Linked DNA regions of Homo sapiens. The protein of the gene in region 2 interacts with the protein of the main gene of each other region in a pairwise test. Each region holds a gene or a part of one and is shown on either strand. Other genes may lie near its edges.

What was found.
Region 1: the proteins of HIRIP3 (region 2) and AMPD2 interact in binary tests that used the Homo sapiens proteins (3 or more experiments, as listed by UniProt).

The regions. Positions count from the first base shown.
Region 1 is NC_000001.11:109,609,955-109,626,687, reverse strand, and holds the start of AMPD2 (AMP deaminase 2), read right to left. Parts: upstream 6,852-16,733; 5' UTR 6,420-6,851; coding exon of another isoform or gene 6,410-6,419; intron 5,775-6,409; 5' UTR 5,581-5,774; coding exon of another isoform or gene 5,513-5,580; coding exon 5,422-5,512; intron 2,660-5,421; exon of another isoform or gene 2,599-2,659; intron 1,386-2,598; coding exon 1,255-1,385; intron 1,027-1,254; coding exon 896-1,026; intron 529-895; coding exon 460-528; intron 370-459; coding exon 261-369; intron 1-260. Other genes in the region: GNAT2 (guanine nucleotide-binding protein G(t) subunit alpha-2), read left to right, coding at 13,818-13,935, 16,181-16,223, 16,507-16,648. UniProt on the Homo sapiens protein: AMP deaminase plays a critical role in energy metabolism. Catalyzes the deamination of AMP to IMP and plays an important role in the purine nucleotide cycle.
Region 2 is NC_000016.10:29,989,326-30,000,344, forward strand, and holds HIRIP3 (HIRA-interacting protein 3), read right to left. Parts: upstream 6,293-11,019; 5' UTR 6,281-6,292; coding exon 6,216-6,280; intron 6,139-6,215; coding exon 6,018-6,138; intron 5,893-6,017; coding exon 5,778-5,892; intron 5,519-5,777; coding exon 4,581-5,518; intron 4,484-4,580; coding exon 4,315-4,483; intron 4,233-4,314; coding exon 4,134-4,232; intron 4,046-4,133; coding exon 3,882-4,045; 3' UTR 3,005-3,881; downstream 1-3,004. Other genes in the region: INO80E (INO80 complex subunit E), read left to right, coding at 6,986-7,066, 7,222-7,292, 7,483-7,535. UniProt on the Homo sapiens protein: Histone chaperone that carries a H2A-H2B histone complex and facilitates its deposition onto chromatin.

The DNA.
Region 1 (16,733 bases), on a different chromosome or scaffold from region 2:
GACTCAGAGACCTCCTCCCTAAGGCCTTATCTTAGAACCCAAACTATCCCCACCTCCCACAGGCCCTGACCCCCAGGAACACTCAGATCACCCTGGTCCAGCACATCAAGTGGCTCCTAGGCAGCCCCTCTGCCCCTCCGCCCCTCCAGCTGCTGGAAAGAGAAACGCCCTTTCCAGCCCCCACCCCCAGCTCTCCAGGCTGGGGGAACCCACTAAGACATAGGTGATGGCGACTCACCCAACATACACCCCATACTTACCCCACACTTCTCCTCCCCAGAGATGGTGACCCGCTGAAACTCCCGTTCCAGCACATCACGCTCCCGCAGGCTCCGGTCACCCTGCCCCTCACCCTGTTCCTTGTAGAGCCTGCAGGGGGTGCATTCAAGGGAGGGGTTTAGAGCCGGCAGAAGGGCAGGCTGCAGCTCCGCATCCCCTGTGCCCCTCTGCCCTCCTCACTGTAGGTCCGAGTCACTGTCCGTCTTCAGGAAATCTTGCTTGGCCCGAAGCAGGATGTCTGGCTCCAGCCTAGAGGCAAGAGGGGTGAGAAGTCAGGCAGATCCCGAGGGACGGCCCTTGCTCCCAGGTCCCAGCACCGCACTAGGTGCTGTGCACATGTTGTCACATGTGATCCTCAAAGGCAGAGCTGCAGAACCCTGTGCTGTTCTCACTCACTTTAGAGATGAGAAAGCAGACCCATAAGTTAAGCAACATGACCCAGCCACACCGGCGGCTAGAAGACAGAACAGAACCCAGCAGCCCGACTCCAAAGCCCACTCTATGCTCCCTGTGCAGACCCCCCAAGGCAGGGTGCGAGGGAAAGAGGCAGAAAAGGGGCTCTGAAAGGGTCTGGAAGGGTATGGAGGGAGACTAAGCAGCTGCCTGCCGGGCTCACTTGACATCCTGGCTGATCTGCCGCTCCAGCCGCTGCCGCCGCTCCTCCAGCTGTTCAATGGGGCTCTCCTCGGGGAACTCATACGGGGCACTACGGAGCTCGCTCTCAGCCAGTGAGCGGGTGAACAGCTCCTGGGGGGAGGGAAGGAAGGTCAGCATGGCTGGCCCTCCGCCCTCGGGCACTCTCCTACAGAGTCTGGGGATGGGGTGAGGGCAGCAGGACCAGGGGTACCTGGGAGAGGCTGAGGATCAGGAGACAGCCAAGCGTGAGGTGAGGGGACAGCTTGAGGTGAGGGGTGTGGGGAGCAGAGGCAGGGCATGGAGACACGGGGTGAGGGTGCGGGTGGTGCCAGGTGATACCTCGGCGATCTCCTTGCATTTGCCATCCATAGACGTGCGCAGGTCGAGCGGGAAGTGCTTGAGGCAGGGGGCGGGGCCCGGCAGGGATCGGGCAGACTGCAGCGGAGGGGCCCCCAGACCACCCCGAGCCTCTGCAGAGACAGTGATGCCAGGGTCAAAGGGTGGAGGGGCAGCCCCTGAAAGCCCTGGGCCCCTGCCCTGCCTAGGCCAGCTCCCGAGAGAGCCCAGGGTCGGGAAAGAGGGCAGTCCCTCCTCAGTAGCTGAGGAGTAGGCCTGTGTGTGTGGCTCCCAAAGGGCTCACCCTCACCTCTAACGCAGGGACCCCTCACCCATTCCAGGCTTGGGGTGGGGATTCTGAGTCTGCCCCTAGAACAAGTAGATTCATTACCTCCACAAATGAGACTAGAGCCTGATCCCTCAGGCCATGAGAATCTCCACGTGACTACCTCCCAGAGGCAGGTGCACGTGTGTACGTGTGCACACACATGCACGTACGCACACAGACACCCTCAGAGACACACACCAGGTGCTTGGTAAGGACCAGGCGGCCACACCAGGGACCCCCAGCCTGCAGCTCCCAGGGCAGGCAACCCAGGATCAGACCCGCCCCTGGACTAGCAGATTCTCCACTCAAAGGGGCAGGGCCCTGTGCCTGACATCCTAGACCTGTGCAGCACAAGAGAAGCCGCAGCTGCTGCTCAGCTCTGACCTAGGGACGAGCCCTCAAGGGAAGAGGAGAGGAAGTGGAGGGCCTGGTTGGCAAGGGAACCCTACCTCCTCCCTGGAGGCCCGCCCTGTCCCCCAGGGCCCCAGGGCTGCCAAAATGTGGCCTGGCCTTAGCCTGCCCCTCCAAAAGGAGCTGCCACAAACAGTCTATGCCACTCAGGCCCCAGGATCTGGACCGGGGGCACCACAGAGGGCCCTGGGGAAGGGAGTGTCAGAAGCCAGGGGTCTTTCTTCATCAAGACTAGACTTTCCATCTGTACCACGAGGAGGCTGGCACCAGAGGGCCGTGAAGCTGCTGGTCTATGGGGGCTGCCAAGGCTTCCAGCCTACCCCGAAGGACCCTCCCTGGGCTCAGCAGCCCCAGCTCCTCAGTGAGAAGCTTTCCACACCCAAACTGCCTCTCTCAGCCGGCTGTAAGGAGTGCTCCCCTCCAGCACCCTCCACCCTGGCTTAGGGAAGGATTACAGGATCTGCCTAGGTAGCCGGCCTTAAAGTCTCTGCGCCCATTTCCCAATACTCCAGGACTGGTCCCAAAGCTGGACAAAGGGAAGAGGGAGGGGCCTGCCCCAGATCCAGGACCCCGTCCCCTGCGCACCCCGGCCCCTGCCTGAACCCTACCTGCAGAGTGCAGGCAGCTCCGGCCAGCAGCCCTGTGCCCCTTGCCCGCCTGTTTGCCAGTGAAGCTGCAGCCGGTCCCTCAGGGGCTGGCACAGGCTGTACCAAGTGCAGCTGCAAGCAGGGGAGACCCTGAGATGGCCGTGAGCACGGAGCTAGGGGAGTTCAAGGGAGCCCAGAAACCAAGGGAAGGAGCATCAGAGTTGGGAGATAAGACGAACTCCAGAACTGAAGAGGGCCTCCACCTCTACAGTGCCAGGGAAGACCCAGCCAGATGTGAGGCTCCTAAGGGGGAGTAGCAGGGTAGGCTGACTTGGGCAGGGCAGGCCGACAGGGAGGAGCCAAGCCTCCTTAAAATCCACTGCCCTAGGGGACAGTGAGTGGGCAGGGCCTGGCTGGCCAAAGAGTAAGAGGGGAGAAAAAGGAGGGGAACAGCGCTCTTCATCACACCCACAGCCCCAGGTTGGCCTCTTCTGGCAGTGGCCTTGTTGCTCACCACTGTCCTCTGGGCCCTGATTATGGCATCCCTCAGGAGAGACAGGGCCTTTGCTGGGGTAGGAGCTGGCTGGCAGCTGGGGAAATGGCCCAGTCTAGGTAGGGGCCAGTCACTGAGGCTTCCCCGCTGCCCAGCTGCTCAGGGGGCTGGTTCGCAGGCCCCTAGACCTGCAACCCCTGATCCAAGCCTATCATCAGGGACAGGACAAACTGTCCAGAATAAGTTTGGGAGAAAGGGGGCTAGAATTTGGAGAACATGGATCTGATTCTGTTCCTGCTTCCGGGCATGTCTCTACCTACCTCTGGGAGGCTTTGGGTCCTCATCTACAAGTGGGGCGATAAGTGGTCCCTTCCCTGCCTAGCCACAACTGCCATAAGGCTCACAGAGATAATGGCTCTGCAAGTGTTCTGCAAAACACCAGGCTCTGTGTTGAGGCAAGGCCTGCAATTATGAACTCCTGGGACCCTCAAAATACATTCTACCTGTAGCCCCGCCCACTGAGGACAGTGGGAGGTTCCCTGGGCCCAGTGCAGGGCAAAGGCAATAGGCCAGTAAAGGGCAGTGAAGTGAACTTGGCAGGAGTGGAGATGGGGTGACTCTATCTCTTACTTGGAAAAGGACAAAGTGGGAAGAGGAAGAAAAGAGGGGAAGCTGTCTCACCCCCAGAGTGTAAGATCTTTTCTTGCCCGAGAACCCTGATTTTACACACCTCCTCCCTACATATGGCCCCAGACCACTTCTGACTCCTTCTAGGGGAGGCCGACCACAGACCTCCATGGCTGGTTCATATTGGGTCAGCAGGAGTTGAGTCAAAGGCTCAAATCTCAACCCCCTCTCCTAGCAGGGGGGTCTCAGGCTCCACAGCAATCCTGGGGTGAGCAGGACAGATTCCAACAGCCAGTGCCATCCCCCCAGCCTGCCAGACCACTCTCCAGGGCTGCCGCAGGCTCACTGAAGGTGGCACACGGGCAGTAACCGCTACGTTCTCAGAGGCCAGGCCTAGAAGACTCAGCTGCCTACTGGTCCTTTCTCTAGGGGTCAGCACCACACACATACACCCACACTTACGGAGAAGTCAAGCAAAAGCCAGAGTGGGCTGCTCCAGAGCCACTCCCACCAACTCTGAGATTCTGAGCACCCCATCTCCCCTCTCGACCAGGAGCCCCTCACACACTGCCACGACTGCCTCAGTAGGCACAGGGGTGTCCACGGCTTTGACCCCACAAGTATCAGATGCTCTTACCATCTGACCACCGAAGGGTCTCCAGCTCTGGGCTAGATCCGTATCAGTTGCCCTATTGCTGAACCAAACAGGGCCAGGAAGGGCCCCACCCAGGGGACACCCTTTCTGGATGGCACAGACCTGGGCACAGAGAACACCCTCAGGACAGTAGAGACCTTGCACCAGTCATCTTCAATGAAACAAAAAAATATAGGAGGTTGATACTTGGGCTATAGCTACAGACAGCTGCAAGGGTGGGGGCAGTCGGCATGATCTGGTCATCAAAGTCAGGGTGGGTCTTTCCTTAGCCACAAGGCCTGGGAGCAGACAGCAGGCAGATATCCCTCTGCAAGCACAGAGCCAGGCAGCCAAGCCCTCACTGAGACAGGCACTGCCGCACCTCACTGCCTGCTCCAAATGATGCAGAGATGCTTACTAGAGTGAGAGACGAACCAAAGGGTGCAGAAGCACACACAGTGCGGGCAGCAGCCCCAGCCTGAACCCTGCACGGACCTGACCAAGGACACCCCATACTCCTAAGGAGGCTCACAATATAGACCAGGAATGAGCAAATAGCAAACGATAGATACAGTCAAGCCCCCAGTTGTGGGATGCCAGCCAGCAATGGTTGTGCCCAGATGTCAGACCCCCAGTGAGGGGGATCTAGATGTGGGGTCCTAAAAAGTGGAACTAGCCACAGAACAGCCTAAGCCTGCCTGGTAAAGGCACAGGCGCCAGTCAGAGTGGCCAGTCCACAAAACAGTCAGTCCCACACACCCCCGCTCCATTCACACATGCTTCACACGCAGTCTTAGCACATGCACACGCTGACACGTGTGCATACACACCTCTTGCTGCACCCACACCATGCCCACTCCTTGTGACAGAGGACAGCATCCCTGGCACAGATATCTCAGATCCACCCCCCGCCCCCCACCACCCCTCACCCCACCTTCCAAGCCGGCTGTCCCTGGGACTGAGGTTGAGGGGCACCACCACAGAGAGGATGCCGGAGGAGGTGGCCCCCTCTGAGGGGACCAGCACCTTGGGCGAGAGGTGGCAAGACAGAGCCCAGCATCTATCCTGAGGCCAGGAAGCACACACTCACCTGGAGCTGCAGTGGAGGCCTGCAGGCTGGCCCGCTTCTTAAAGGGATATTTGGCCTTGGGCTTGCCAGAGCCAGATGGATAGGATGCCATGGCTGGGACCACGGCGGCGACAGCGGGGGAGTCTGAGCGGCACCGGCTGGGGCCTGGCTCTGCCACATCCAACCCCTTCCTCCGCCCCGCCCCCAGCGGGAGTGACTGATGCAGGAAGCAGCGGCTCCGCAGGCGGAAGAGGCCCTGGCCACGATTTCTCATGTTGTCTAGGCAACCTCGGGGAGTGGGGCCTCCATCTCTGCCCCTTATCCCTCCCCTGCCTCCTCAGTCCCAGGAGTGACGTGACTGATGGTGGCTGGGCCTGGCGGGGGGCGGGGAGGGGGTGGGTAGAAAAGAAGATGGGGAAGGGCCAGCCCCCAGCTCTCCACTAACCCACCAAGAGCCCTCACCCCATCATGCCAGGGCTCCCGGGCAAAGAAGCCAAAGTCCAGGCTAGCTGGTCCTTCCAGCTAGCCTGGAAGAAAAAAGAATAACAAACAGGAATTCAGCAGCGAGCGAGTCCAAGCTCAAACACAGTCCTCCCGGGGCAGGGCAGGCATACTCCGTGAAAACCCAGCACCCACTTTCCTTCCACATCTGACCCTCAGCTCCCGGGGTAGCCCAGCTCTGGGAGGAGGGGGAAGAACCGAGAATCCCAGCCCAGGAGGGAGGGGCCTGTCCCGGGAAAATTCCACCGTCGCCAAATAGCTACCTCCCAGGAAGGCAGGAAGGCCAGGAGACCCCCTTGTCTGGGGGTCTGGGACAGAGACCCTAGCCTCTTTGGATTTTTCCTCTGTCTCTGCACACTCTGGCTCTGCTCCCCAGGCCCTCCTGGGAGGAGCTGACCGCCTTCCCTAGGTCCTGCTGCTGTGCTGTGACTCCCACCCTCTTGTCACTCTGGCCACAGCACTTCTCTGTCCCAGAGACCCTCCCTCCAACACACGTACACACACTCACCTGAGGCCATGATGCCCGAGTTCCGAGGGGAGGCTGCCCACGAGAAGTCTGTACAGCAGAAAGCCCGGGTCCTGAGGGACGGCAGGGGGATCGGGCCACAGACCCCAGCCAAGTCACTCCAAGGGCCCCTGCCCTGGCACTGAGATGGGGAAAGTAAGGCAGTCTTTCAAAATTGCCAGCTGGCCGGAGGTGGACTCCCGCAGACCTCGGCAGCCGGACTGGCCTCAAGGCGACCCCGGTGTCGCGACCACCCAACCCTGCAATCGAGAGGCTGGTAGGCCACGTGCTCCCAAGGGAGCGGGACCCGAAACTCGTCCAGATTTCTCTCAACACTCCCTGGGCATTCAGGGTCGGACTCCCGCGGCCGGACTGTGGGGGAGTCACGCAACAGGTGAGACCCCACCAAAATCTCGCCGGCTCCGCGCCAGGCTCTGCGGCCCTTGGCCCCGCCCCCGCCTGGCCCCGCCTCCGCCTGCCGACCCCGCCTCGCCATTTTTTTCTCTTCCTGGGCGCCACGTGGGCAGCCACCACACCGCGGTAGGGCTGGCCTGAGCCGACCCTGGGTCTTGGGCCAGTTCCGTGCGTCAGCTTCCTCATCAGTAAGATGGGGTAATGACAGTACCTCACTCAAAGGGGTTACTGTGAAGATTAAACGTAAAGTCCCTTTACACAGTGCCTGGCACGAAGTGAGGGCCCAGTGAAAGGTAGCTGTTATCATTGTCCCAGGATTCATTTTAAGCAGAAGTCCTGCCCCTGCAATCTCACTTGGTCGTCTGTTTTCTTCCGGCCGGCGTAGGTAGGAGGCTGTGCCCTGCAATTCTGGCTCCCCTTCCCACATTTCTGTATTTGGTGGTTAAGAGCTTTAACTCTAGCCAGAATGTCTGGGTTCAAATCCAGATTTCACCTACTTCCTGACTGATACTGGGCAAGTTACCTAACTTCTCTGTGCTTCTATTTCGTCTGTAAAATGAGTGTAAGAGTACCTGCTTTATATGGTGGTTAAGATAAATGAGTTAATATAAGTTAACTGCTTAGAACTGTGCCTGGCCTGTAGTTAGTACTCAGTATTCATGTATTACCATTGCTTTAGCCTTGGCCTTGGTTCTCTATTGACACTCACAGGTTGATTCACTTGCAGCCGTTCTGGGGTCTATCCAACAAGCATCCCCACTGCCAAGGGGTAGATAATCCGACCTAAAGGGAACTTGTGGAGGGAAGTCCCTAAGACTTCACTGAATATAATTAAATGCATTAGCAGGAATTAATCTCTTCCCTATTTTCCCTCTTGTGGGAGGCCTTTGCCCCCCACACCCAGTTGTTCTAATGCTGTTTGTCTGGCTCCTCCCAGTTCTTACCACTCCCACAGCAGAGATCCTTCCCAAACTCTGCCTCCCTCTTCTCTCCCCACGCTGGATTCTGGACCCTGAACCCTTTTCTCCACCTGCATCTGGTGCCACTTCCATTGATCCCTGGCTACTGTTCCCTGAACAAACTTAAAAAAAACTTGGCCTCTTCACCTCACACAGAATCCATAAAACTAAAAAGAGAACAGAGATAACCAGGTTTACCTAATCAAAATAGCAAAGACTAAAAAACAAAAAACCAAAAAATAAACGCTAATGCAGGTTGGCAAGGGTATAGTTAGTGAGATGGGAGACACACACACACGTACATGTGCACAAACACATTACTGGTGGCCTTGAACACTGATATAATCTTTCTGAAAGCCATCTGGTAATATAGAATCAAAATTTTCAAAAAGGTTCTTATTATTTGACCCAGTAATCAACTTTCTGGAAGTTGTTTTTCTAAAAAGAGCTGCCAGAAAAATATGTATGCAAAAAGTTGTTCAGCACCACAATGTGTATTGCATAGAAAAGTTAGATACTTTAAAGGTCGAACAATAGGGGAATGTTTATGTAATATTCATACCATGAAATACAGCCATTAAAAATTGTTCTTGGAGAAATGTTTAATGATGTGGAAATGTTTACAATATAAAGTTAGGTAAAAGAATGGATGCAAAACACTATACACAGTATGGTCCTACTTATGTGATATACATGGGTAGAAAAGAAACACACCAACAAGTTTACCAATGATTATCTGTAGTGATGGAATTATGGGTTATATTTATTTTCTTTATATTTATTTGCATTTTAGAAATTATAATACATACCCATAACTTTTATAATCAAGGGGATAGAAATCAACAAAAATCTGTAAAAATCTGTAATTGCCTCCACAGTCCCCCCAACCCAGCCTTCCCGGGGTCTTAACCCCAGACTTAAACTATTCTGTTTACATTTATGGCCCACTGAATTGGTCTTGGGGCGCTTAGGGATTTTGAGGCTGATGGACTCTCAAGAATGAATAAAATGAATCTCAAAAATCAAGCACCATGTAACTACATAAATGTCATGTATCTTCTGATAAGATGCAAATGTTGACATAGTTTTAAAGATAGTATCTTGCATTGGGCCAGGTCTCTTGAGCATCCTGCTTAATGCAGACCTACCTACCTCAGCAGCCAATAGGTGGCAATCCTTGCCCTCCACCCAGCCCAGGCAAACCAGTTCATTAGTCCCTTTATGCTAGTCCCCTAGTCCCATCTGCAACACACCCTTCACTCTACAACCCTCCCCTATTTCCAGGTCATCTGGTGTATTGTTGCTGCTAGGAAGTCGGCCCTGATTATAGTTAGGCATCAATCCCTCCACCCACTCCATACCAGCAAGAATCTCAGTGAGGTTTCATTGTCTACGCAGAACAGAGCTTGGGAAATAAAGGAGTGAGTCATCCTATGGCCTGGGCTTTTTTCACACTGAGGCCTTAACATTCATTGCCTTTGAGCCTCTGAGATATTCCCTAGCTCCAAACACAGCTTCCTCCCCTCCTAGCCTGTTCCCCACATGGCTCCTTAACTGGCCCTCCCGGAATCCCAGCTCCCTAAAGATGGTGCACTCCTGTTTCTCTGAAGAAGTGCTTTTCTTTGCTTCTGGACTTCAGCTCACTTGTGATGTCCGCCTCCCTAGCTAGGCCAGAACAATCTTCACAGATACTAAACTTGGGAGAGAATATCTGCAGCTCCAAAAAGGTCCTTGGCCAAGGCAATTTCCCAAACCATACCTTATGCCTAGGCCCTTCTAGAAACAAGCTGTTCAGCTCTGGTTTCTCAGCTTCTCCCAGCAGCCAGCTCCCTCTCCCCCTCACCTCAGTCACCCAGCATTGTGTTTATAGCACCATACAGCTGTTTCCATCTATACTTGTTTATAAGACCCCAGTGGATTTTAGTCAAACCCCTTGCCATTGAAGGCGCTTCACTGGCTGGCTCCAATTTCCCTTTCTTGTCTTCATCTTCACCTCCCAACCCTCCACTCCATGCACCTTTCACTCCAGTCCAGTCACATCAAAGTCCCAGTCTTCTCTGAGCACACCTTGTACTTTGTGCCTCTACCTCTTTTTTCATGCTCTTTCCTTTCCCCAAAATGCGTATCTCCCACTTCCACTGTTATTCTGCTTCTCTGTGGAAAGTCTATTCATTTCACAATCACCCTTTTCTTTCTTCCGCTGTAGAACTTTGTCAGTCTGACAGTCAGATGTGTGTTTGATTGCCTTTCCTACCAGGGGTGAATGCTAGGTCTTAAACAGCTCTGAATTTCCCAGCACTACTGCAGTATCCCTTTAACTCATTTGTTTTTCTGTGAATTTCCCCCACCTCTGCCTATGGACTGGAAGGTCCTGAAGGTAGTTCCTCATCCTTCATGTCCTCCCACTCCATCTGGGACAAGTCTTTACCCACAATTCACTTAAGACAAGGCTTACCACGGATGTCAGACAGATCCCTTAACTCAGGAAACATGCCCAAATCACTAAGAAACAGTGATTTACTTTTCATTCAAAATGATAATGGTTATAAAGGGCTGTGAATCAAAACACCTGAGCTCTGGCTTGGCTTCTGATACCAACTTGCTTATTAATGTGAGGATCACTTTTCTGTACTTCAGTTCACTCACCTCCAAAATGGAACTAGCACTACATACCTTATTTACTTCATCAGGAAACTGTTCGTAAATGTGATCATAAAGTGGGACAGCCACAGGAAAGGCACAGGAACTGACGATAGAGGCAGAGGCAGGAGGTCACAGACATCAGGATGATGTATGCACAGTAATGGATCTGTACTCTCAGGCCAGGCGAGGGCTAGCAGTTCCCTCTCTCAGCTTAGCAGTGAGAAAGGGGAACTTCCATCCAGTAAGTTAGGGAACAAAGCAGAAGCAGCACAGAAGTTTGCAGAGGTAGTAGCAGAAAAAGGAACAAGCCCACTTTCCCTGTGTGTGAAACAACTTAGTGGTTCCTTTAACAAGGGCTGCTGTTATAGAGTTCATGCATTTGTCCATGCTTTCTCTCTCTGGCTACTTATGTGGAAGTAATAGAAAGAAGGATCACCGGTTTGTCTGTTTACTAGGCCATATAACTTTGTTTTTTTGTTTTTGAAACAGAGTCTCACTCTGTCACCCAGGTTGGAGTGCAGTGGCGCAATCTCGGCTCACTGCAACCTCCACCTCCCGGGTTCAAGCGATTCTCATGCCTCTATCTCCCAAGTAGCTGGGTGCATGCCACCATGCTGGGCTTTTTCTTTTCTTTTCTTTTCTTTTTTTTTTTTTTTTCTGAGACGGAATCTTGCTCTGTTGCCCAGGCTGGAGTGCAGTGCCTCCCGGGTTCAAGTGATTCTCCTGCCTCAGCCTCCCAAGTAGCTGGGATTACAGGTGCCTGCCACCATGCCTGGCTAATTTTTGTATTTTTTTTAAGTAGAGACAGGGTTTCACCATGTTGACCAGGCTGTCTCGAACTCCTGACCTCAGATGATCTGCCCATTTTGGCCTCCCAAAGTGTTGGAATTACAGGCGTGAGCCACCATGCCCGGCCTAATTTTTGTATTTTTAGTGGATACGGGATTTCACCATGTTGGCCAGGAACTCCTGACCTCAGGTCATCCACCCACCTCAGCCTCCCAAAGTGCTGGGATTACAGGCATGCGCCACTATGCCCAGCTGACTTTAAATGAGTTACTTAACTCTCAAGTCTCAGTTAATCTAGTCTGTAAATTGGGGACAATAGCAGTTATTGTGATAATTAACTGGTATGAGCCACTTACATTGTTCAGCAGTTATTAATTATAATAACTATAACATAATAATTATTAATAGTTCCAGGCAGCCCCTTGAACAGTGTAGCCTTCAGCATGGCTCTGGCCTCAGTGTGAGTTACCAGTATTGTGAGTACGCTGGAGCAGGGCTAGCAGTGGGGTATAATTACTGAAACCTTATAACCAAGATTCCAAGATAGTCACAATTTCAAAGAGACTCTCCTGTTTTTCCTTAAGTCAATAAGGACTTGCCAATTTGATTGGGAAAACATGGCTACCATGGAAAGCACCTCAGCAGCTGCATATTTCTCCATCAGCCCCTACAGTCACTGAAAGGTGGTGCGAAGGAGGAAGATAATTAGCTATGGCTCAGGGTACCTGATAGGCGGGGAGACCTAGATTCTACTCCTGACCTTCCCAGTCCCAACTGGCCACTGCTGCACAAGTCCAGCTCTAAAATGAAAGAGCAAATTACATCCTTCGACCTCAGTAGTTCTCCACCTTGGCTGTACACTAGAATCAGCTGGGGACGTTTTTAAATCCTTGTGCCTGGACTGCACTCCAGACCAATTAAATCAGTATTTTTTAAAAAGCTCTCCAGGTAAATGCCACTGTACACTAAAAGTTGAGAACTGTTTCAGGCCAGGGTTTTTCAAACTTCACAGATGTGATAACTACCTGTATTAGCTTAAAATATTTTCTCTGGCTCTGGAGTTTGATGCTAACATACCATTTAAAAACATACACTATTTTAACATCTCGGAAAGCAGGGTAATCTTCTAGTCAGTGGCACCTAAGACTTGAGGAAACACAGACACCAGCAACCCAGGTGATTCTTAGGATTAGGTAAGTTTAGCGGAAAACAGGTCCCTAGGGCAGTACTTCCCAATCTTTAATGTCTTTAGAGTCACCTGAGATCTTGTTAAACTGCGGATTCTGAATCAGAAGTTCTGGATTAAAGCCTGAGATTCTGCATGTCTAATGAGCTTCCGGGTGATCTGATGTTGCTGGCTCTTGATCCACATTTTGGGCAACAAAATTCTAAAACATCTCCACCTGAGGAGGCTCCGCCAGCAACACTCATTTAAGTAAACTGAAATAATTGGCATAGAGGAGTACAACCTGTGGAGTCCTAAATGTCTGTGAGGCAGTTGCTAGACTGCACCCTCATTTTTCCCCCAGGAAAGGGCAGCTGGGATGAGAGCCAGAAGGAGAGAGAGCTGCCCCAACCTTTGAGAAGCCAGAGTCTGGAGTCCAATTTCCCAAAGAAGCAGAGTTTTTTGTGTGAGGCAGCACAAACCCCACACTGAATACCAGCAAAGTTCATTTATGAAGTGAAGTTGGGACTCAGCTGGCTTTAGTGGGCCAAAGGGAAGCAACCCCATTCTCTTCACCATACACCCTTTTCCTGCATTTATTCATTCACCAAACCTTTTGATCCACAAATAAACTACAAGTTCTGAGAGGTTCAAAGATGAGTCAGATTTGGTCCGTTGAGCTCCAGGGGGAGAAATGCAGTGAGGGAAAAGATTTGTAAAACGACGTACAATATGAAGTGATAAGTGCTAATAACAGAAGTACAAAGAGAGGGGCCAATGCAAAGGAACAATGCTAGTAGCTTCCTGGAGCAGCAGCCACTGCGGGAGCTGAAACATTCCTAATCTTCCCAAGGAAGGGCACCACCCAAAACAAATTTCCTGGCCAGGACCAGCCTATGGTAAACGAGTATGCTTTGATACCCTGAAGCCCTTGAGATCAAGACCTTATAATCTGGAGGCTCAACATAAGGAATGCTTTCTACATATGTGCCAGTAATCTCTAGCTCTATGATGCAAATAAATCTAAGGAAGCAAGAGACTTTCAGGGGATGAACCCCTTAAAGGATGGAAGTAGTCGTGCATCCTATCCTTCCGTCAGAACCCAGCAGATCATTTCCCTAGTTATAGAAACATTTGAGTCTTTACCCCTTGCCATATTGACAAAGCTCTTAATTGGCTTGACCTATCACATTGCTAGATATAAAGGCTACAATCCCTAGACTAAGAAGTAGGTCTCCAGTTGAAGTAGGGAGTCTCAGTCAATGTAGGCAGAGTACAAGACCCTACAGCCTGCTCTCTCACCTGCCATCGTACAGACCAGCTTTTAGGGGAGCCAAGTTGGGATACTCAATCCCAACTTTTTTCCTTCTCTTCCATCTCACATACAGGAAACCTTACGAGAGAGGATTAGGGGCCTGAAAAAGCTGACAAGACGGCAAATATGGGAAGTGGAGCCAGTGCTGAGGACAAAGAACTGGCCAAGAGGTCCAAGGAGCTAGAAAAGAAGCTGCAGGAGGATGCTGATAAGGAAGCCAAGACTGTCAAGCTGCTACTGCTGGGTGAGTGAGATGGGAAGATGAGCCAGAGAAGGCAGGGGTCCTTCCTACTTTCCTGAAGGGTTGGTGGGTTCTACCTCACCCCATGGGAAGGAAGGGTGGCAGGTCATTTTTCCTCTCCTCTACACAGTCTGGCTAGGGGATCAGGAGATCTAGAGCTGAGTTAATATGGGGCCTAAACAGCCACCCCAAGGGGATCCAGAATGCCAAGGCTATTCCAGAGTTTTTCTACTCTTGAGCGAGGAATAGTGCAAGGGCCACCATGAACCCACCCATTTCCAAATCTAACCAAACCTAACACATCCTTTTGGCTTCAAGGACCCTGGACTTGCAGACTGTACCCAATCTGCAGAGAACTCTAAGCCAAGAAATCAGAAGAGAACAGGACCTTCCCTCACCAACAGGCTCACAAGTCCCACCATACAGTCAGTGCCAACAGTACCAGAGATAGTCCCACTGGTTTTTGCCAAGTATAGTGGTTCCTTCTTGCTTTCAGTAAAAACTTTGGAAGTAGGGGGCTCTGAGGAAGGAGGAATGGTGTCTTTATGTACAGCAGTCCCTTCCTGGCTCTCTATTCAATAGCTGCCTGCAAAGCTCCTGCCAGATGGAAGGTTCATCAACTTGATGAGCTCCTAAGCAGATCACTGGTCTGTGCTGAGAAAATAAAAGCACCTCAATTTGTCAGGGAAATTGATCACAGCTGTAAATAAAACCAAGACAAGAACATTTGAGACACGTGGCTTAGGAAAACAAACCACTGGTACCACAGAAGTAGGGTAGCTGGAGCAGGTAGGGTCTACGTAGCAGAAGATTAGATGCCTGAGCTGGGTTTCCAAGCCCCCATAAGGGATCTGGGAGCTGACGCACTAGGCTAAGGCACCTTCTTTTCCCCCAGCTGATCTGTGGCACAGTCGTAAGGACACACTAAAGGAGCATATCTTTGTAAGCTGGACCAGACTCTAAGGAGCCCAGGAGGTTACGCAGGGGGAAACAGAGATGGTGGGGCCACTGAGAGATCTTTTAAGCCTAAGCAGATTTCTTCTACATTCAGGATAAGCTGCTTAGAGGGAACAAGCACAAGCGAAATAGGAGGAGTTCGAGGCATTAGGGTAGTATAAACTCAGTACTAGAAGGTATGAGTTTTTGATGGAGAGAGCAGAGTGTGAATGAGGACATTAGGACACATTAGTCAATAAAGGGAACCCACTTAGCCCCATCCAAGACCAGGTTGAGCAACATGGTGAAAACCTGCCTCTACGGAGGGGCGGGGGGAAATGGCCGGATGCAGTGGCGCACGCCTGTAATCCCAGCGCTTTGGGAGGCCAAGATGGGTGGATCTACCTGAGGTCAGGAGTTTGAGACCAGCCTGGCCAACATAGTGAAACCCCATTTCTACTAAAAATACAAAAATTAGTCAGGCATGGTGGCATGCGCCTGTAGAGTCCCAGCTACTCAGGAGGCTGAGGCAGAAGAATTGCTTAAAACCCAGGAGGCAGAGGTTGCAGTGAGCCAAGATAGCACCACTGCACTCCAGCCTGGGAGACAGAGCAAGACTGTCTCAAAAAAAAAAAAAAAAATGTAGTCGGGCATGATGTCGCACACCTGGAATCCCAACTACTCAGGAGACTGAGGTGGGAGGATCACTTGAGCCTGGGAAGTCAAGGCTGCAGTAAGCCGAGATTGTGCCATTACACTCCAGCCTGGGCTACAAACCTGAGACCCTGTCTCAAAAAAAAAAAAGGGAACCAGCAAGGTGATGAAAATATAGTTATTTTGGTGAAATGATCCAGCTCTCTCCAATCCTACCCCAAGATCACTCTCCTGAGTCAAAAATAGGCAGAGAGGAGAAATGTTAAAGGACTCCCCCTGAATCTGTTAGTGGTTTTCAACAGGAAGATTTTGACTGCCAGTGGTCATTTGGAAATGTCTGGAGACACTTTTGGTTGTCATAACTAGGGAAGTGGGATGCTATTGGCCTCTAGTGGGTAGAGGCCAGGAATGCTGCTGAACATCCTACCATGCATGAGACAGCCCAAACTAAATAGTACTGAAGTTAAGAAACTGCTCTAAATCCAGGTTGAATGGCCTGAGCTCAAGCCTGCCAGAAATTGAGGGCAGCAGTCATCCCTATGTATTCTCCCCTAACAAGACCCCCAAGCAAGCAGTGGCTCTGACTTCTCCCAGGCCATCTCCTGGAAGGCTGAGGAGAACTGGTGGAAATCGAAAGCATAAGCATTTTTCCTTCCAGGTGCTGGGGAGTCAGGAAAGAGCACCATCGTCAAACAGATGAAGTGAGTAGAAACAAAGCCCCAAAAGACAAGATAGGGTGAAGAAGTCAGTACAGCCAGTGGAGGTATTCAAAGTGAAAGGCTCTTTAGCCTCAAGGAGCCCAGGTATAAAGGATCTGATTCCAATGCCCCTCATCTGTACCCCTTGTCCCTCACCCTCCACTTTGAGAAAGCAGTAGCAACAGAGAGATAGGATTCTTATGATCCTTTAAATACCCCCAAATTCCTAATCCCTTAGGTCTGGTTACTCAGGTCCAGCTAAAGACAGAGTGTCTGCCCCTTGCAGGATCATTCACCAGGATGGCTATTCACCAGAAGAATGCCTGGAGTTCAAGGCTATCATCTATGGAAATGTGCTGCAGTCCATCCTGGCTATCATCCGGGCCATGACCACACTGGGCATCGATTATGCTGAACCAAGCTGTGCGGTATGTGATTACTATTATGTGGTTAAGGGTGGAAGCAGAAAGGCTAGCAAGAAGAAACATACCAGAGGCCAACAAACTATATGGA
Region 2 (11,019 bases):
TCTGCATCTCTTGCCCATCGAGACCTTCCTGATCTCTCTCAACACGATCCCACCTCTCCATGTCTGTCTGTCTGTATACAGCTCCCCCCACCCCCTCTGTCTAACATGTTTTCTGTTTCTCTCCCTCTCCCTGTCTCTGCTTCTGTCTCCTCTCCTCTTCTCTCTCTTCTCCCCATTTCCCCTGGTTGTTCCTCCTCTTCCTCTTCCTCCTCTTCCTCCTCCTCTTCCCCGCTGCCCCCATCTCCCCTTGATCCGTCCACTGCATAGTCTAAGGAGCTGCAGATCAAGAAGCAGTTCCAGGAGACGTGTAAGATCCAGACTCGGCAGTACAAGGCTCTGCGAGCACACTTGCTGGAGACCACGCCCAAAGCTCAGCACAAGAGCCTCCTTAAGCGGCTCAAGGAAGAGCAGACCCGCAAGCTGGCGATCTTGGCGGAGCAGTATGACCAGTCCATCTCAGAGATGCTCAGCTCACAGGCGGTGAGGCCTGGGGTCCAGGGAGGGAGTGCGCTAGAGGCCAGGCTCTGTACTTTGCTTTAGAGAAATGGACGGTGCAGGGCATGCACAGAGCTGGGGCTTTTTTACTTGGGAAACTCACATACTCTCCCTCTGTTCGTGTTCTCCACAATGATTTATTTCATATTCTCCTCAGTGGTTTTATTCTTTCTCTTAGTATTTTCTTAAGGTCTTGACAAAGCCATGTGCCTATTCCCAAGAACCACCAAGGAAAAGAGTGGCTATTATTTTTTTCCTGGGCCTGAGTTAGTTTAATGGGTAAACAGGGTGCAGATTAAAGTGAGTGTGGCCCTCAAGCCCATTTACTCAGACTTCTGGAGGATTTTGAAAGTTGCTGTTCTAAAAAAATGATCACACCTAACACTGGAATGGGCCACTTAAAATGTGCGGAGAGGGTGGAGAGTGGAAACGCCCCACCCAAGGCTGTTCTCTCACCCAGTCCCACCTCTCCCAGGTAACTTGTTAATAATTAACTGTATTTTGTGTTTTTTCAGTGCACATTTTGAAAAATTATATGAATTTTAAACACAGATGGAATCATACTTTACATTTACTTTCTGTAACTTCTTTTTTCCACTTAATATTTCTTGGACATCTTCCCCTGTCAGTACACCTGTCTCATTTTTTTTACAGCATAGAATTTTCCATGGTATGGCTGTACCATAATTTATTTAACCCATCCCTTATTGGTGGACATTTAGGTTGTTTCCAGTATTTTGCTATCACAACGCTTCCGTGAACACCTCGAGCACATGTGCAAGTATACCTGGGGGATAGATTCTGCAGTGTAATTGCTGTGCCACAGGGTATGACCATCTTCCATTCTGATAGATGTTGAGACCGCTGCTTCTTGAAACCTTAGGGCCCAGGCCTACCTGGGGCAGGGGAGGATAGTGGGGGTGGGGGAGGAGATCCCTACAACTGGTTGTTCATCTTCCCCAGCTGCGGCTTGATGAGACCCAGGAGGCAGAGTTCCAGGCCCTTCGGCAGCAGCTTCAACAGGAGCTGGAGCTGCTCAACGCTTACCAGAGCAAGATCAAGATCCGCACAGAGAGCCAGCACGAGAGGGAGCTGCGGGAGCTGGAGCAGAGGGTCGCGCTGCGGCGGGCACTGCTGGAGCAGCGGGTAAGGGGCCCAGCCTCCAGGACTGGGGAGGGAGGGTGGGCTCCTGCCCCCGACTCTAACCTCTGTTCCGGATGCCCCAGGTGGAAGAGGAGCTGCTGGCCCTGCAGACAGGACGCTCCGAGCGAATCCGCAGTCTGCTTGAGCGGCAGGCCCGTGAGATCGAGGCCTTCGATGCGGAAAGCATGAGGCTGGGCTTCTCCAGCATGGCTCTGGGGGGCATCCCGGCTGAAGCTGCTGCCCAGGGCTATCCTGCTCCACCCCCTGCCCCAGCCTGGCCCTCCCGTCCCGTTCCCCGTTCTGGGGCACACTGGAGCCATGGCCCTCCTCCACCAGGCATGCCCCCTCCAGCCTGGCGTCAGCCGTCTCTGCTGGCTCCCCCAGGCCCCCCAAACTGGCTGGGGCCCCCCACACAAAGTGGGACACCCCGTGGCGGAGCCCTGCTGCTGCTAAGAAACAGCCCCCAGCCCCTGCGGCGGGCAGCCTCGGGGGGCAGTGGCAGTGAGAATGTGGGCCCCCCTGCTGCCGCGGTGCCCGGGCCCCTGAGCCGCAGCACCAGTGTCGCTTCCCACATCCTCAATGGTTCTTCCCACTTCTATTCCTGAGGTGCAGCGGGGAGGAGCAGATGAGCTGGGCAGGGCAGGGGTGGGTGGAGCCTGACCCTGGAGGGCACTGAGCTGGAGGCCCCTGCAAGGGTAGGGGACAAGATGTAGGCTCCAGCTCCCCTCAGACCTCCTCATCTCATGAGCTTCTTGGGGCTGGCCAGTGGCCCAGGGCCAGCTTGGCGATAGGTGCCTCAAGGCTGCCTGGGAGCCCCGCCTCCCTACCATGGTGCCAGGGGTCTCCCTCCGCCACCTAGGAAAGGAGGGAGATGTGCGTGTCAAATATTCATCTAGTCCCCTGGGGGAGGGGAAGGGTGGGTCTAGACATACTATATTCAGAGAACTATACTACCCTCACAGTGAGGCCCTCAGACCTGCCACAGGGCAGAGCAGGTCTGGGGCCTGAGGCAGGGAGAATGAGAGGCCACCTTACTGGCAGGAAGGATCAGGATGGGGTCTTGGGGTCAGGATGCCTGGGTCTCTTCCCGTAACTGTCTGACGTCCTGTGCCGTCTTGTCCTTTATCTTTTTTTTTTTTTTTTTAATTGGGATCAGGGCTGGGGCGGGGAAACAAGGGAAGGACCTTGGAAGGGGCTGCTCCCAGGCCTGGGGGGCAGTCGTGGGAGCCCCTCTCAGCTGTGGGGCTGGCACAGAGCCCCAGGCAAGCTTTTAATAAACTGTTGGTTATTCTAACAGATCTCAGGACTCACCCTTCTGTCTTTGGTGTGCGTGAAGGACTGCTCAGTGGCCACTGAATAGTACTGCTTGTGTTTTATAAAGAGAATTTATTGGGCTGTGTATCTAAACATTTCAGTGATTTTAATGACTTTAGGTGTGACCAGATCTCGGATCTCAAAGGTGGTCTTCAACCCCTTGACCTCTAATTCGTTTTCTTTGCTTTGACTTCAAAGATTCTTAGGTTTGCCTCCCACACAGACCCCAGGCAGCTCCATGCTCACGAATCTTCCCGCAAGCCTCAGCAGCCAGAGTTCAGTGGAGACCTCATGTGACTGCAGAGGCTGGGCCTGTAGCCAGAGGCCTAGAGGGCTAGGACTGGCCCAGGAGGTATGGGCTTTTCCCCACCCCTTTGAGGCTAACAGCCCATGGACAAAGTGGCTGTTTGCATAAGGGAGAAGGCTTAAGCACTGGCTGCCCTCAAGTCATTCTATCCCTCTCCCAAGTGGGCATTAGGTTATCAGACTAGGCTAAAAGCAGAGGGGCCACGGGGTAGGCGGGCAGCACAGGAGCCACACACCCTTCTCCAAAAGGGTCTGGTGGCTGTTGGATGACAGGGTCTGGAGGCAGGGACTTCTTCCAGGAACCCGGGGGAAATTAAAGGGAACCAGGCCAGGGGAGGAGGTGGAGGCAGTGACTACTGCTCAGTTTCCTGGCCCAAAATACAGGAGGTGAGAATGGGGGACCAAATTTGATGAGGTGATTAAAAACACTCCTTTATTGAGTCTTAAAAAATAAACACCTTAAAGGGACAGCGTGAAGCTGAGAAGTAGCATCCCAACAGCTTGTGTCCTTGGGAGCTGCAGTCTTCTCTGAAGGAAGCTGCTTCTGTTCCACAGACACAGGGCAAGGGGTGCTATGTATGCTTTGTACATGTATCAAGGGTCCCTCCTGGGGGTGGCAGAGCTCAGTTACTCTCGCCATCACTGCTGATGATGCCACGCATATGTGACCAGTCTGGGGGTGCGGGACGGGGCCGCTCTTCATCTGAGTCCAGGGTCCGTCGGTACAGCTCCCCTGGGGGTGCTGCTTCTCCTAAAGGGTTCCAGGCTGTACGTCTGCGTGGCCGGCCTAGGGGAAAGGGGAAACGAGAGATCAGATGTCTGAGAAGGTCCAACCCCACCTATCTGCTCCTGGGCAGTGAGAGGAAACCCCTTACCCGAGCCACTGATGATGTTCGCAACATCCAAGGAGGCCACCTCAGCTGCCTCCTCCCTCTGCTCCTTCAGGGCCCGACACTTCCCTAGGGAAGGGGTACCTGGGGCAGAAGAAGCTGGTGATTCTCTCCTCCCCAGCAGGAAGGCCCTCTCCTGCAGCCCCCAGGGCACGCCGGGCCTCACCCTTCATGCCTAGCGCTTCCAGTTCTGCCCGGAGGATACTCAGGCGCTCCTTGTGTGAGCAACAGGAGCCCAACAGCTTCTTGTAGTTTCGATGGGCACCACAGGCCCGAATGTAGCGCTTCAGCCTCATCACAGCCGGGTGGTCCTCTCCACGGCGACCTGAGCCAGCCTAGCAAGGAAAGAGCAGCTGAAGGCCAAGCCTGCTGGGCCTGAGGCAGGGTCTCCCTCTTCCCTAATAGTGGCCTCCCACCCCTCCTCACCCTCACCTTCCCTCCTTTGGCCTCTGGACTTCCATCTGAGGAGGAAGAGGAGCTTCGTGTCCTGCCTTTCCTGGAGCTCTTCTTGGAAGAGCGGTTCTTCCTCTCCCCCTGGGGGCCTCCCCCTGCCTCGCTGTCACTTACCTCCCTCTCCAAGTCACTTTCCTCACCACTGGTGCTGCCCAGTCTGGCCATCTTTCTAGAGCCTTTAGCTGTGGGTTCCCCCTTCCCACTGTCTTCCTCGTCCTCGCTGCTTCCACTCAACCTCTTCCCACCCTTAAGCTGGGTCCTGTCCTCACTCTTCCTCTGCACTGGGGGTTCTCTATCTCTCCCACTGTCATCCCCACTGCTGGCTGCCTCTTTCTGCTCTTCCTCGCTGTCTGAGTCTCCCAAGAGCCTCTTTGCCTGGCTTTTCTGCTTACAGCTCCTCTCCTCCCTAGCTGACTTTCTCCGGCCATTGCTCCTGGTTCTGGGTTTCCAATCCCCCTTTTCCTCATCCTCTTCTTTCTCTTCCTCCTCCACTTCCTCCTCTCTCTGCTCTTTCTTCTGGGCTAGGATCTCCTCTTCACTCTCCTGTTCACTTTCCTTCAGGCTTTTAGTTCCTTTATTTCCCTCCACCTTCTTTGCTGTCCTCTGAACGGGTTCTGCCTCGCTCTCCTCACTTTCTTCCCTGGCCTGCTTCCTACTGACTGAGGCCTTGCCTGGTGCCTGCTTCTTTACCACAGGTTTCTTCCTAGTCTTCCCCTTGTACCCCTTTTCCTCCTCCTCACTGCTCTCCTCTCCCCTCTGTGCGGGCAGGTCCCTCTGCCGTTCCTCATCACTGCTCTCCTCAACTGCCTTTGAGGCTCGCCTTGGATTCTCCTCTTTGGCTGGGCTGACTTCTGCTGCCACCCCATTCTTTGCTGGGGGTCCAAAGTAGTCTGGGCTGGAGGCTTCAGAGCCGGACTCTGGAATATGGAGAGGAGAGAGGGTTGAGACAGGCTCCTCCTGTCCCTTCTCCCTTCACTTCGGATAGGTTGCCTCGAGCCCTGCCCTGACAGTTGGAGGGGCAGCAGGAAACAGCTATCTGTACTTGCTGTTCCCGGTTCCTGACTCACTAGCCTTGCTCCCTCATCTAACGCCTGGGGACATAAGAGATGCGCAGTGAATGCTTCTTGAGTGAACCAACGATGCAGAAGGCCCCCACAGCAGGGAGGAAGCACTAACCCGACTCTGAATTGAAGCGGAACCTTTTTCTCTCCGGGTCGCTACAAGGGGTGGGAGGCCTCTTGCCCTTCTTGGTAAGGTCCAGTTTGTCTTCCCTGGAAGCGGCTTCATCCACCTGTGTGTGCGCCAAGAGGGCAAACTATGCACCAAGGCTGCGCTCACCGCGCCCCGTCAGGCCCCTCCTCCTCAGCAGCAAGCCCCGCCTCCGCCTCCCGCGGCCCAGGCTCCGGCCCGGCACACCTGCATCTTCAGCAGCTCCTCCTCCACCAGCCGCTTCAGTGCCTGCTTCTCCTCGGGCTCCAGGTGGCTGCGGCCCGAGTGAGCTAAGTACCTCCGCCGCACGATGGAATGCGTAAGCGTGCTGCAGGGACATGGTGTCAGGACGGAGTCCCGACCCACCCGCGCCCTTTCCAACCCCATCTCCAACCCCCTGGGCACCTGAGGTCCGGGCGGCCTCGGAAGAAGCTACGGGTGAACTCCTGCATCTCCTTCTCCCGCGCCATTTTGCTCAACCCGGGATTGACGGCTCCCGCCTTTTTTTCTTCTCGGCCTCCGTCAGCGCGTTTGACAGCGGCTCGCGCACGCGCAGTGCTGCGGCAACGTGGGGCGAGGGACCGTTGGCCCTTGGCCGCGGACCGCGTGGGCCGAGAACTTTGCCAGACGAGACTTGTTTTCTCTGGGCAGTTGGAGGGTCTCGCGGCTCCTACCCTTTTTTGGAACGGATCATTTTAAAAGTTCTCGTTAGAAACCAATTCGGCGCCGGCACCCTTTGGGTGAAACCTAATCAGCCCGCGACGCTGCCTTTCTCACTGGTCACGGGCAACAGCTAGGCTGCTGTTATTTCGCAAGGCAGAAGAGAAAAGGCATCCTCGCGAGCAGATGAGGAACCTCGGGGATAAATCCTTTTGTGGCTTCAAGTGTCTAAGTACATTAGAGTCAGGAACGGCGCTTTCCAGCGTCCGCCATTTTTGTGGCGTCACCGCGTCGCTGCTACGCCATCCCCAGCGCAGTGGCTGCCGCGCTCCTGTCCCAGTGTCCCCCGGGAGGTCGGCCCGTGCGGTGACGCCCCTGAGCGCGGGGTACGCCGGGAGTTGTAGTCCTGACGGCACAGCCTTGCAGCGTCTCCGGAAGTGGAGGCGGGAGCGGCACGGCAGCCACTGCTTGGGGTAGCGGGAGGGCAGACTCTGGGCGCCACTCCCGGGCCGGTCATGAACGGGCCGGCGGACGGCGAAGTGGACTACAAAAAAAAATACCGGAATCTGAAGCGGAAGCTCAAGTTCCTCATCTACGTGAGTGCTGCCGCGGGAAGGCTGTGGGGGATGAGGCCTGGCGCGGACAAGATCTCAGTTTACCCAGGTGTAAAGTGGGTGGGGCGAGCGGCCGCTGGTTCCGGGGCCCTTCACGGAGGACCGTTGGCCCAGCGCACCCCTTGCCCGTGATACAGGAGCACGAGTGCTTCCAGGAGGAGCTGAGGAAAGCGCAAAGGAAATTACTGAAGGTGTCCCGGGACAAGAGGTGAGGCACGTTGCAGGGGCGGAGGGCGATGTGCTTCCTAGGAAATCTACATTCGGACCCCATCCCCGAGTAGGGCCACAAGTGCATGGGCTCTTTCAAGTATCCGATGGGCCAGCTGGGAGGGACAGGTACCCAGGAGGACATTGCTGCGCTGGAAAATCACTGTCCGTGTCTCCTTCCCTCCCCTCAGTTTCCTCCTAGACCGACTTCTGCAGTACGAGAACGTGGATGAAGACTCTTCGGGTGAGCAAGGTCTTCAAAAATTGGTGGAGAGCATGGTTCCTGGTACTTAGCAAGCTTCCTGGGCCCCCGCCTTTTAGGCAGTGGTGGCTGATGCAGCCCCCAGTGGTCCTTAAGCCTAGTTGCTTGCCTTCCACCTCCACCGTTCTTTCATTCAGGCACTTACTGAGCACCTATTGTGTTTCAGGCACTGTGCTTGGCACAGGGGATACAGCAGAGGCAGAGATAGGCAAAGCCCTTGGCCTCTTGTAATTTATATTCTAGTTGGGAAGAATAAGTAAATGAAGACAATAGACTAGAATTTTAGGTCATAGGAAGGACTTGAAGGTAATGAAAACAGTTATGCGGTAATGATTATAGTAGAACAGGGGTTGATGAATTGTTTCTGCAAAGGGCCAGATGGTAAGTAAGCTTTTTGCAACATACAATCTTTGAAGCACCTACTGAACTCTGCCATTGTAGTAGCAGCCGTACCCCATAGGCAAATACATGAGTATGGCTATGTTTCTATAAAACTTTATAGGCACTGAAATTTGAATTTCATATTTTTCCATATGAAAAATTTTTCTTTAGTTTTTTTTTTTTCCAACCGTTTAAAAGCTTAAAAGCCATTCTTGGCCAGGTGCAGTGGCCCACGCCTGTAATCCCAACACTTTGGGAGGCCGAGGTGGGCGGATCACAAGGTCGGGAGTTCAAGACCAGCCTGACCAACATGGTGAAACCTCGTCTCTACTAAAGATACAAAAATTAGTCGGGTGTGGTGGCGTGCACCTGTAATCCCAGCTACTGGGGAGGCTGAGGCAGGAGAATCATTTGAACCCTGGAGGCAGAGGTTGCAGTGAGCCGAGATCGCTGCCACTGCATTCCAGCCTGGGTGACAGGGCGAGACTCCGTCTCAAAAAAAAAAAAAAACGCCCTTCTTAGCTTGCAGACCACACAAGCAGGCAGCAGGCAACCTCTGAATGGAGTACTCAAGAAAGGCCTTTCACAGAGTGACATTTGAGTTGGGACCAGAGAAGAAACCAGCCTTCCATCCTGGGCAACATAGTGAGACCCCATCTCAATTAAAAAAAAATTAGCCATGTATAGTGGTGTATACATGTGGTCCCAGCTACTTGGGAGGCAGAACCAGGAGGATCCCTTGCCTGAAAGGTCAAGGCTGCAGTGAGCCATGATAGCACCGCTGTGCTCCAGCCTGGGTGACAGAGCAAGACTGTCTCAAAAGAAAGAAACCCCATCCTGGCTAACACAGTGAAACCCTGTCTCTACTAAAAATACAAAAAGTTAGCCGGGGATGTTGGTGGGCACCTGTAGTCCCAGTTACTCGGGAGGCTGAGGCAGAAGAATGGCGTGAACCTGGGAGGTGGAGCTTGCAGTGAGCTGAGATTGCACTACTGCAGTCCAGCCTGGGCAACAGAGCCAGACTCCATCTCAAAAAAAAAAAAAAAACAAAAACCAATCTTGTGAAGAAGTGGGCTAGAGCTGTCCCGGCAGAATAATATAAATGCAGCTACCCTGAGGTAAGAACAGGTCAGGCTTGGTTGAAGAGCAGAGGCATGAAAGAGAGAGAACACTGTTTTCGTCCTTTTATTTGAATATTGTCTGCAGTTAACTATATTTTACATCATAACCAGGGCCCCACATGTTAAACAAAACAAAGTTTAACGAAACATTTTTAAGATCACTGTATCCAATTCATCCTGACACTTTTTAGACTGCTTTTTTCCCCTTCTTTTAATGCTGGTTGCAAACCAATAAATTGATTTCATGACCCACTAATGGCTTGAGACCCACAGTTTGAAAAAGCCCTAAGGTAGGCATTTGTGGGCCTCTTCCTGGGTGAGGCCCTCGTAAGCCATGTCACGTAGAATCACCTCTCTCCGTGGTGCCTTTAAACATTGGTCTGGGCCGGGCACGGTGGCTCACGCTTGTAATCCCAGCACTTTGGGAGGCCGAGGCAGGCAGATCACGAGGTCAGGAGATCGAGACCGTCCTGGCTAACATGGTGAAACCCCGTCTCTACTAAAAATACATAAAATTAGCTGGGTGTGGTGGCGGGCGCCTGTAGTCCCAGCTACTCAGGAGGCTGAGGCAGAAGAATGGTGTGAACCCGGGAGGCGGAGCTTGCAGTGAGCCGAGATTACGCCACTGCACTCCAGCCTGGGCAACAGAGCAAGACTCCGTCTCAAAAAAAAAAAAAAGCACATTGGTCTGAGGCAGGGATTGGCATGTGGCAGCCAGCCACGTTTTAGGACGTAGTGTTTTGTCAGAACGCATGATACCCATTTGCTTGTTATTATAGGAGGATTGTAGATAAGGTTGGGGAAATAGGCAGGGGCCCACTCAGGTAGGTCATAGTAGGAGATTTGGCTTTTATTGTAGCCTCTCATCCCCTGCCTCTTCCTTCCCTAGGGGCTTCCAGTTAACATCCTGTTTGAGGGGAATTCAGGGCAGGAGGTGGGAGAGAACCCAGCATGTTCATGGCCAGAGTGGGTTGCATCTGAGGAGGAAGAGCCAGCGATGCGAGCCCCACTCCCGTCCTGGAGGCCCACGCCCTGGCCAGGGAGACACTCGCAAACGACGCTTTTCAGCACAGTGTGAGGGCAGCCATGACGAGAGTAGAGCGTTCCAGGAGAGCCTGCAGTTAACTGGGCTTGAGGGATTCTGGAAGACTTCACAGAGGAGGTGGCATTTAATCTGCTTCTTAAAGGGTCTGTCTGAGCAGAGACATTGGTAACGGCTTCTATAGGTGTAGCAGTCGTTTGTTCGATGAAAGATGGCCCTTCTAGGCAGAGGCACTGAACTAGGAAATACATTTCTTTTTTGACGAAATAGGTCAGTGTGCTTTAAAGAATACAGTTACGTTAGTTGACCAGAAAGGTACATTGAAGCCAGATTAAGCAGCACCATGAATTCATGCAGGTAGTGGGTGATGTCATCAGGAAGGATGTGACCAGGTTTGTTTTAGGTCACTCTGGGGTTGGGGGTGGACAGTGGGTGGCACGGTGAGGTGAGACTGCTTAGCAGGTGATTTTGACGTGCTGGTGGCCTGACCTGTGTTAGTTGGTGTGGGGAGCAGTGGATGAAGGGGAGGACTTCAGGGGTAGATGAACAGGACCCTGGTTATGGGGAGTGGGGCAGAGGCAGGAGTTGAAGACTGCTCAGCTCAGAGGCAAGGAACCAGTGGCATCAAACAGCCAAGGAGTCACAGACCTGGCTTGGAGTCTTAGCCTCACACCTTACTTTCTGAGCCTCGGTGACCTCATGTGACAAGTGGAGGTGCTGCCCTTCCCATCCTTCCTTGGATCTGATGACAAGGAGAGGTGGTGAGTGGGAAAGAGCCTGGCACCCTGGCCATGCGTGGCAGGTGTGTTACGGAGGAACCAGAGCGGGCGGGGGGCTGGGGAGGCTGGAGAGGCTATGGGCCTCCCTGGGACAGCTCGAGTGTGTGGTGCATGCGTGTGCCCACCAGCTGGTGAGTCAGATT